Homo sapiens: one gene and its partner. The protein of the gene in region 2 interacts with the protein of the main gene of each other region in a pairwise test. Each region holds a gene or a part of one and is shown on either strand. Other genes may lie near its edges.

The links. Proteins that work in one complex are often made in the same cells at the same time.
Region 1: the proteins of ENPP7 (region 2) and BACH2 interact in binary tests that used the Homo sapiens proteins (3 or more experiments, as listed by UniProt).

What each region holds. Positions count from the first base shown.
Region 1 is NC_000006.12:90,289,384-90,294,321, forward strand, and holds part of BACH2 (transcription regulator protein BACH2), read right to left. Parts: exon of another isoform or gene 3,100-4,938; intron 2,563-3,099; exon of another isoform or gene 1,867-2,562; intron 1-1,866. UniProt on the Homo sapiens protein: Transcriptional regulator that acts as a repressor or activator. Binds to Maf recognition elements (MARE). Plays an important role in coordinating transcription activation and repression by MAFK.
Region 2 is NC_000017.11:79,733,472-79,738,409, forward strand, and holds part of ENPP7 (ectonucleotide pyrophosphatase/phosphodiesterase family member 7 precursor), read left to right. Parts: intron 1-36; coding exon 37-182; intron 183-1,571; coding exon 1,572-2,198; intron 2,199-3,569; coding exon 3,570-3,789; intron 3,790-4,425; coding exon of another isoform or gene 4,426-4,444; coding exon 4,445-4,575; 3' UTR 4,576-4,591; intron 4,592-4,938. UniProt on the Homo sapiens protein: Choline-specific phosphodiesterase that hydrolyzes sphingomyelin releasing the ceramide and phosphocholine and therefore is involved in sphingomyelin digestion, ceramide formation, and fatty acid (FA) absorption in the gastrointestinal tract.

The DNA.
Region 1 (4,938 bases), on a different chromosome or scaffold from region 2:
TAATATGAGCAGCACACAGAGGAAGCTCTCAATACAAGTTAACTATCATCAAAGAAAAAGAAAATAGAGGGGTGTTAGCATGAAGTATAATCAATTTATTTTAAATAGATGCTGTCAAAATTCCTTAATTTTGCATCTAAGAATGGTCTAAATAAGACGTGTCCAATCTTTTGGCTTCCCTGGGACACACTGGAAGAAGGAGAACTGTCTTGGGCCACACATAAAATACACTCAACACTAATGATACATGATGAGCTGAAACAAGAAAAATAGCAAAAAACAAAAAACAAACAAACAAAAACAAAAACAAAAAACCTTTGTGTTGGTCCGCATTCAACACGCAAGAGGCCTGCTGGCCATGGGTTGGACAAGCTTGGAATAATCTTCGGGCCACAGAGGATGGAGACCCTCTGCTCTGGAGTAGCCAGGGACTTCAGACAGACTATTTAGACTCACTTTTTCACCAAAGGCCCTACACACATCAGCTGACTGGGAGAGAATATCTTTGTAGCTTCTGATCATTCAAATATTGTCAAAACCAACCTAAATATGTTCAAAATAAGAATGTTAACTTGTATTTTTTCCAAGTATGGAAATGAACAGTACTCTTGGCAGTTAACTTCTGTTTTTATCAGGTTCTAAAGACCCAGGTAAATAAATCAATTCTGGACTCTGTATACAGGAACTATTATTTGCCAAAATGGCCCCAGAGGTTCCAGCATGGCTTAGGCAATACTCCAAAGGGCCAAAGATAGTAGTGAATTAATAGGATTAGGAAGCTGGAGAAAAAGTGAATCTCAAGTTTCAGACTGTCCCTGATGGAAGGTCACTCCACAATTCCTCAGGGAGGGCTTCCCCAACCTCCCGACCAGGTTAAATCTGCCCATTAGACACTCTGGTGTATGAAATACTTTCCTTCACGAGCAGTGGGTTATCTGTTACTAACTGATCAGTGCCATTCTTCCTACCAGATGACGTGCTTCATGAGACCAGGGGCCAGGACTGGGTTTGCTCCCCATTAGCACTGTGGTCACTTAACACTATGCCTGCCATGTAAGAGATACTCAGTATATATTTGTTTAATGAATGAATGAGGCATCTGCCTCTAAGCAACAGTATTTCTGGACACTTGGCCCATTTTGCACTATCCACGAGCTTCTGTTGCTTAGAAGAATACAGGATAGGAAAAAAAGAAAAATTGCCAAAAATCTATGGATACTGAAATACTAAGGAAAGATGCTGAGCATGTACATTCACTTTGTTTCCTACTTGTGGAATGGAAATCATCACATTGGGATCTCCCAACTTTAAAATCCGAAGTGAAGGTCTAAGCTGTCTTTGGGTTAGACTCCTGGAAAGTCTTGAGGAAATTCCTGAAGTATCTGCAGAAAGTGACAGGGGAGGGAGAATAGAAGATGGCCCAAGACTAGAGTGATGGAAGACTTGGAAACTCGAAAAGCTTTCTTCTAACTAACTGGGACTTTGTCTACATGCCAGCTACAGGCTCAGGCACACATGAAGAGAATAATGAGATGAATGGGAGGACTGGAAAGTGGAGGATTTAAATGCTTAGGAAAGGAGCCAATGAAAGCTGACACAAGGACAGGAGGGACCTAGCAACCAAGCGCCGGCTCTCATCACATCAGCAGCAGCATGTCCTACAGCCTTCAGGAAAAGAACAAAAAGGTCAGGGAGGAAAATGACACATCTCAGAACCAAAGGGCAATTCATTATGAGGCTAAGGAACAAAGGAGAAGTCAACCAGGGAATATGCTGAAGAAACGGTGATTATGAAGTCACTGGGGAAGACTGAGAGGCATTTTGGCTGTAGTTCCAATGACTAGAATGAAGGATGATGTGAAATGCTTTTGGATTGGGAAGATTTATTATTTTGGAAAAAAAATAGCTCAAGGAAAAACAAATGGCAAAATTCCTGCCTGAATTTTGAAGTAGTGTCACTAGCAGGATGAGGTTCAATTTATACATTCTTTAGAAATGAAATGGCCCTTGGAAAAGACATAGTGGTAAGATTCGCAGGACATTTCCAGCCTTACGGAAGCTGAGTAGCATGCTGATAGTAAAATTAAGTTTCAGTTTTAGATAGACTGACATTTGAAATTAACAAAAAAAAAAGTAAAGGGAAAAAATTAAAAGACCCTGAACTGACAAAAAAAAAGAAAAAAAAAAGCAACTACTGTCTTTTTTTTTTAAATTAAATGTCATCACAAACAAAAAAAAAAAGGTGAAAGTTGAGTTGTATTTTGGGCAATCTTACTGAGTTTACAAAATGTTTAGTTCATAGCAGGTTTCAGTTTGGACATGAACAGTTTGTAAATATTTACATAAAATTTAAAGATAGGAGGACAGCAGAGGTCATATATTGCTATTAACAATACAGAAGCGATTTTCCGTCATTCCCAAGGCCTTGGTGCTGCGTTCCCATATGTGGCCCCAGCTCTGCCAAAAGCTTGTCTTCTTTTCCAAAGAAATTCCAATTTTTGCAACCAGCATTGACTTCTGAACTGTGAGTACCTCTGACAGGGTCATATGTCGCTGAAACTTCTTCAACATCCAGACAGGGAAAGGAGAAAAACAGGGAGGCAGATTTACAGCGTCTGCTATCTGAATTGCAGATTTTGACAAATATGTTACATTTTATATTGTTCTCTGTTCTATGTGAGGGCAGGGACCATGTTCTCTGTATGTCACAGTCCTACACCATGCCCAGTCATTGATTCAGGACTGGACTGTGTAATGGAATGGGGAAATAACCTTCAGACATTCAAGAAAACATGCACTATATTCAGATTAAGTTCATTCCAACATGAGATTAGTTCTTCCAACTCTGCAGAATGGGCAGGCACGACACCTACTTCAAAGGGTTGCTTTGAGGAATCAATGAAGTACATTCAGGCAAGGTAGTCAGCACTGGGTCTGGCACATGGTGCGGATTCAGTAAATCAAAACTATTATTTTGGTGAGTGTTCTCAAATGTCAAACTCCCATGGAGGTCCTCAGGCATTACCCAGCCAAGTTACCCCATCTGGTCAGTAACAACTAAATAGAGGGCAGGTGGTTCAAAAGTAATGGATTATTCACCTGCAAGGAATCACACTGTACTCATGGTATTAAATTATTCGGCCTTTCATGTCGAATTCTCTGTTAAAAAGGAAGCTGATCAATCCCTGAGTGGGACTCAATGTTGATTTGAAGTTTTGTTTTTTTGGCATCTTTCTATTTTCCAGGTAGTTGTAACCATTCATTGGGTGCATACTCACAAATCATCCACTATATGCCAGGCCTTTAGAAAACAGAGACACACAAAGATATTAAACAAAAAAAGATGTTTCAGTCTGTTCAGTAGTGGGAGACAAGCAGCCCCCAGGCCGACACTAGCTCTTACATATGCTTTCATCCAAAAATTTTTTAAAGATTTGAGCCAATATTTAAAAATCAGGAAATTCCACATAAATATCCAATATTCAGCTTCCCCTGGAAAAATCAAATGATGTGGCAACACAAAGCCAGTAGTCCTACCAACTGTTCCCTAGCAAGAGTCTACAATGAGTTGAGTAGGGGCGGCCTGCCACTCCACACTATGCCCTGCTCCTCACCAGAACCAGGTAAGTACATAATTTGCAGGGCTCAGTGAAAAATGAAAACGAGGGGCCCTTTGTTCAAAAATTATTAAGAATTTCCGAAGAAAACAGCAGAACCTTATACCAAATATGAGGTCCTTCTGAGCAGGGAAGAGGAAGGGGGCCTATGTAACTGCACAGGTCTTATGCCCATGAAGCTAGTACTGGCTCTCACCCCCTGGACACACAGGAAGATATTTATTTATCTAAGTATTCTCTCATTCATTAACAATCAAGCCTGCATTTACAATAAGCTAGATGTCACACCCCTGAAATCTGAGGTTCAAAAACTAGAGTAGAGGGGCCAGGCACAGCAGAGATAGAGAGCCACTAGGGTCTCTTTCCTTTTTGTTAAGACTGGATCCACACCAGAGACACTGAAAGTTAATCCAAGTAAAATTAAACTGCTCTCAACAATACAGATTGGCTTGAGCCCTTTTGTTGGCATCACAGGAGCCTCGATTAGGAATTCTGAGAAACAGCTCACAAGCGCTAATGAATAACTAAGTCCTGTCGGCTGTGCAGACAGTGGGCCCAGAAGTGAAGGGCTGGCCTAGGAGAGATCTGAACATGAACCTGACCATCTGGCCCTCTGTGACTCACTTTGATCACAAAATGAATTGCAACAAATTGAAGAGCACATGGCTAGAGTTAATTGTCTCATCTGTAATCTGAATCTACTTTTAAGCAGTTATTATTACCCTCTATCAGGTGGAAACATTTCCTACCATCACTGCAAAGTGCATTTTCCTGATGAACTATAATGGATCATTAAATTCCATATCTGAATAACAATACTGTGCACTTATTCAGTGCCTTTCATCCAGGGATTTCAAGGCAGTTTGCAAATAATTAAGCCCCTTACACAGCAGCCAGAGGTGAGCTACTGGAAAAGAATTGCCTGAAGATACTAAGTCAAAGGGCATAATTCAATAGGAAAATAATAAATGGCTTTCTCCCAGGCACTGGTAATACAGAAAGTGAATCCTGATCCCCTCCCTCTCTTTCACCTCACCCCTTCTTCTTCATAGCAGATCCTGACATGCAACATACAAAGAACCAAAAAAGTAACTAACAGGAGTGTTCACAATTTAGCTATGAGTTCAGACACACACTTAACTGAGAAGTGTGTGTCTCCATGTAATCCTGGCAAACACACTACCAACTGACATTTCAGTCCACCTGCAGAATAGACAGACAGCAGAAGAATTTACTCAACACATTCATGATTACCAAATGGCAAACCTGAAGCCTCCTGCAATGCAAAACGAAAATACGGCTCTGCACCAATAAAGTTATG
Region 2 (4,938 bases):
CCATCCCGCCGCCCTCTGCACCTCTTCCTCCCTCAGGCAAATATATCGAGAACCACGGGGTGGTTCACAACATGTACTACAACACCACCAGCAAGGTGAAGCTGCCCTACCACGCCACGCTGGGCATCCAGAGGTGGTGGGACAACGGCAGCGTGCCCATCTGGATCACAGCCCAGAGGCAGGTAATGTCACCCCCGCCCATACTGACATCGCAGAGCACGGGGGCACCTAGGCCCAGGTGAGGCTTGGAACCATGTGAGATCCACGGCAGGTCCCTTCCCCACTCCAGGGTCTCGGGGCTCCTGGCCTACCCTGGCACAGAAGGGTGTGAAGTAGGGCCCCAAAAGGGGCAGGTGGTGGGTGCTGGTGAGGACTAACCAGTGAGCTACGTCCGGCTCGGCCCATGGACACAGCCCTGCCCGGTCCTCTCTGGGGGGCCCTGGGAGCAAGAGGGATTGCTCTGTCCCCCTAGTCGGAGGGAGAACTGCACCCTTGGGCCCTGCAGCATTGGGGGTGAGGGTCGGACAGGGAAGATCACTGTGACTCAACAAGAAAGCATTTAACAATTAGACGACTTTCTCCCTTTCCACATCCCTGTCACAGCTGAACAGCTAAATTCTAAAGGGCCAAAGACAAAATGAGAGGTGGGTTACAGTATTGACCCAGGAACCCCCCCACCCACCCCCAGTTTGCAATGCTCTGGGGGCTTCCTGGCCCAGAGGCGAGGCTTCCAGTAAACAAAGTCAGTGGAGGTTTCCAAGATGACGCTGGAATAAATGTCAGAGCCCATGCCCACCCCAGAGCCAAGTTATCCACTCAAGCCGGGGTTCCCTCACTCCAGAAGGATCATAGACACACTCAGGGCTCCTTCCACCGGCTGGTGAGCAGGAAGCCAAGGTAGAGACCCTGGCATCACAAGGCTCTTGATCCAATGAAAGAATATCCTGGGGGAGTGGACGGGCAGGTGGGATGGACAGTGATGAGGCAGACACTGCGTATCTGGGAACATTTTTTTTTTTTTTTTGAGACGGAGTCTCGCTCTGTCGCCCAGGCTGGAGTGCAGTGGCGCCATCTCCGCTCACTGCAAGCTCTGCCTCCCGGGTTTACACTATTCTCCTGCCTCAGCCTCCCAAGTAACTGGGACTACAGGCGCCCGCCACCACGCCTGGCTAATTTTTTTGTATTTTCAGTAGAGACAGGGTTTCACCGTGCTAGCCAGGATGGTCTCCATCTCCTGACCTCGGGATCCACCCGCCTTGGCCTCCCAAAGTGCTGGGATTACAGGCATGACCCACTGCGCCCGGCCTCTGGGAACATCTTTATACTGATGTCTTGTTTAGTGCTCAAGTCCAGTGGGCACCTGTTGTTTCCTCTATAAAATCAGGTTTTACCCCCATAGAACATGAGATCAGGGATGTTTTAGAAATTAAAGGCCCCGCAGCTGCAGCTAGGAGCAGGGATGGGTGGGTGGAACAGAGAAGTAGGCACGTGGGGGACAAATGTGTTCACAGGCATGAGACAAGGGGCAGCCCACTGAGGAGTCCTGTCTTTCACGCTGCCTTGTCTGGCAGGGCCTGAGGGCTGGCTCCTTCTTCTACCCGGGCGGGAACGTCACCTACCAAGGGGTGGCTGTGACGCGGAGCCGGAAAGAAGGCATCGCACACAACTACAAAAATGAGACGGAGTGGAGAGCGAACATCGACACAGTGATGGCGTGGTTCACAGAGGAGGACCTGGATCTGGTCACACTCTACTTCGGGGAGCCGGACTCCACGGGCCACAGGTACGGCCCCGAGTCCCCGGAGAGGAGGGAGATGGTGCGGCAGGTGGACCGGACCGTGGGCTACCTCCGGGAGAGCATCGCGCGCAACCACCTCACAGACCGCCTCAACCTGATCATCACATCCGACCACGGCATGACGACCGTGGACAAACGGGCTGGCGACCTGGTTGAATTCCACAAGTTCCCCAACTTCACCTTCCGGGACATCGAGTTTGAGCTCCTGGACTACGGACCAAACGGGATGCTGCTCCCTAAAGAAGGGAGGCTGGAGAAGGTGTACGATGCCCTCAAGGACGCCCACCCCAAGCTCCACGTCTACAAGAAGGAGGCGTTCCCCGAGGCCTTCCACTACGCCAACAACCCCAGGGTCACACCCCTGCTGATGTACAGCGACCTTGGCTACGTCATCCATGGGGTGAGTCGCCTGCTGGAGGCACCACCTCCAGGGGCTCCCTCCCCAGGCTCTGGGTCTTCTTTTTTTTTTTTTGAGACCAGGGTCTTGCTCTGTTGCCCAGGCTGGAGTGCAATGGCAGGATCTCAGCTCACTGCAGCCTTAAACTCCCAGACTCAAGCGATCCTTCCACCTCAGCCTCCTGAGTAGCTGAGACCACAGGTGCACACCACCATGCCTGGCTAATTTTTGTGTGTGTTTTGTTTTGTTTTGTTTCATTTGAGACAGAGTTTCACTCTTGTCATCCAGGCTGGAGGGTAATGGTGCCATCTTGGCTCGCTGCATCCTCCACCTCCTGGGTTCAAGCGATTCTCCTGCCTCAGCCCTCTGAGGCATTACAGGCGCCTGCCACCATGCCTGACTAATTTTTTGTATTTTTAGTGGAGACAGAGTTTCACCATGTTGGCCAGGCTGGTCTCGAACTTCTGGCCTCAGGCGATCCACCCGCCTCAGCCTCCCAAAGTTATGGGATTCAGGTGTGAGCCACTGTGCCCAGCTGATGTTTGTATTTTTTTGTAGAGACAGGGTTTTGCATGTTGGCCAGGCTGGTCTCAAACTCCTGGGCTGAAGCGATCCTCCTGCCTGGGCCTCCCAAAGTGCTGGAATTACAGGGGTGAGCCACTGCGTCTGGCCTCTCCTTCCATCTCCATAGAGGCACTTCCTGTTTCTAGCTGGTCCCCAGTTTGAGGAGTGTCAGCACCGAAGGGACACTTCCTTCACTATGCGGTAGGGTGTGTGCACATCTGTGTGTGCCCTCCACATTCAGGCACCAGGCAGTGGGAGTGTGTGTGCACGTCTGTATCCATCATGACCAGGCACTGTGTGATAGGCGTGTGTGTGTGTGTGTGTGTGTGTGTGTGTGTGTGTGTGCGTCCTACGTGTCCAGGGTAAAGTGTAGAAGTCCAGCCCCAAGGGTGACATGGAAGAGGTAGGAAAGAGTCAGGAGCCCAACCTCCCCTCAGCAGACAGCACAGGGATGCTGAGCCGGAAGCGAAGCACAGATTAGGGAGCAGACATCCCCGGAAAGGAAGTGACCGATGGGAGGCAGCGTTCAACACCGCACAGGCGGCAGGCCCCGAAGCCTGGAGCTGCCCGCTCCACTCCCATTTACTCAGGGTCTGGTCTCCGTTCATTTAACTGGACCTTCCCTGAACTTCACTCTTTAGGGTGACTGATCTTTGGAGGCTCAGAATTCGGGGAAACTGAGTCTTGGAACCCCTCCAGCCCTCACGTTGGTGCTCCTTCCTAAGGGGGTGTTCATAGGGTGGATAGGGTAGGCGGAGAGGGTCTGTTGCTCCCAGCAAGGACCCAGGACCCTTGCCCGCTCCCCGGCAGAGAATTAACGTCCAGTTCAACAATGGGGAGCACGGCTTTGACAACAAGGACATGGACATGAAGACCATCTTCCGCGCTGTGGGCCCTAGCTTCAGGGCGGGCCTGGAGGTGGAGCCCTTTGAGAGCGTCCACGTGTACGAGCTCATGTGCCGGCTGCTGGGCATCGTGCCCGAGGCCAACGATGGGCACCTAGCTACTCTGCTGCCCATGCTGCACACAGGTGAGGGCAGGGTGCCCCAAATCCCCGCCTGCTCTGGTGTGTACACGTGTGCACACGAGGGTGCCTGCATGCCTGTGACCAGGACACCCTTGAGCCCCAAGTGGGGCCACCTCCCCTGGCTTTGGAGAACACCAGAATCTCTCACATTCCCACAACACGTGACCTCTCACGAGCACCTCATGCATCTCGGGCGGCACGAGAGGGCGAGGGGGAGGAGTGGGCAGTCTTGCTCAAGAAGGGGCTGGAGGGAGCGAGGGTGGCCCAGGCGGGCCTGCTGTGCAGAGCCCACCTCCTGGCTGCTGGATCCCCACTCCCCACTCCCCACCACAGCAACCTGAGGGCCTCCTTTCTGGAATCTTCCTGTATCAGCCTCCCACACACACACCTCCCCACTGGAACCTGCCCCATCTTGGGGACAAAGGCCACCTGGAAACTGACAAGGTGGCGACCCCGGCGGGGGCCTGGCTGGAGAGGGGTGGGCTCTACTGAGCAGGGCTATGAAGGGCCGTGGTGGACAAAGGCCATGGGACCAAGGGGGCGGTGAAAGAGGAAGGAGGGGCTCGTGGGGACCAACAGAGGACCCCGAGTTTACTGTGGAGAGGCTGGGGTGAGGAGCCATCCCTCTCTCCCTCACAGGTCCTCTGGCTTTCCTTAGAATCTGCTCTTCCGCCTGATGGAAGGCCTACTCTCCTGCCCAAGGGAAGATCTGCTCTCCCGCCCAGCAGCAGGCCCCTCCTCGTGATGGGACTGCTGGGGACCGTGATTCTTCTGTCTGAGGTCGCATAACGCCCCATGGCTCAAGGTCAGAGACCCAGAAGGCAGAGGCGGGAGGGTGGCCCCACGCTCCCTGACCCTCCACCCTGATGTCCCAGCTACAGTCCTAGGCAACCAGAACAGAGCTGCCAGGCCCCGCCAAGCAGGTGACTCCCACTGACCTGGCTGCCCCAGAGAGGCCATCACCCCTGAGATCCCGAGGCTGACCCTTCCAGCCTCTCTGCTCTGGGCTTGGAGGAGGTCTTTCCAGAGCAGACCACCCGGACCAGTGGCCAGAATTCCCACCCTCCCCCAAAAGCCAGAACTCCCTCAGCCTCTGGCCAGAGCTGCTGCCTCCCCTCCTTCCTGCCATCTCTGTGCTCCACTGGGATAGCT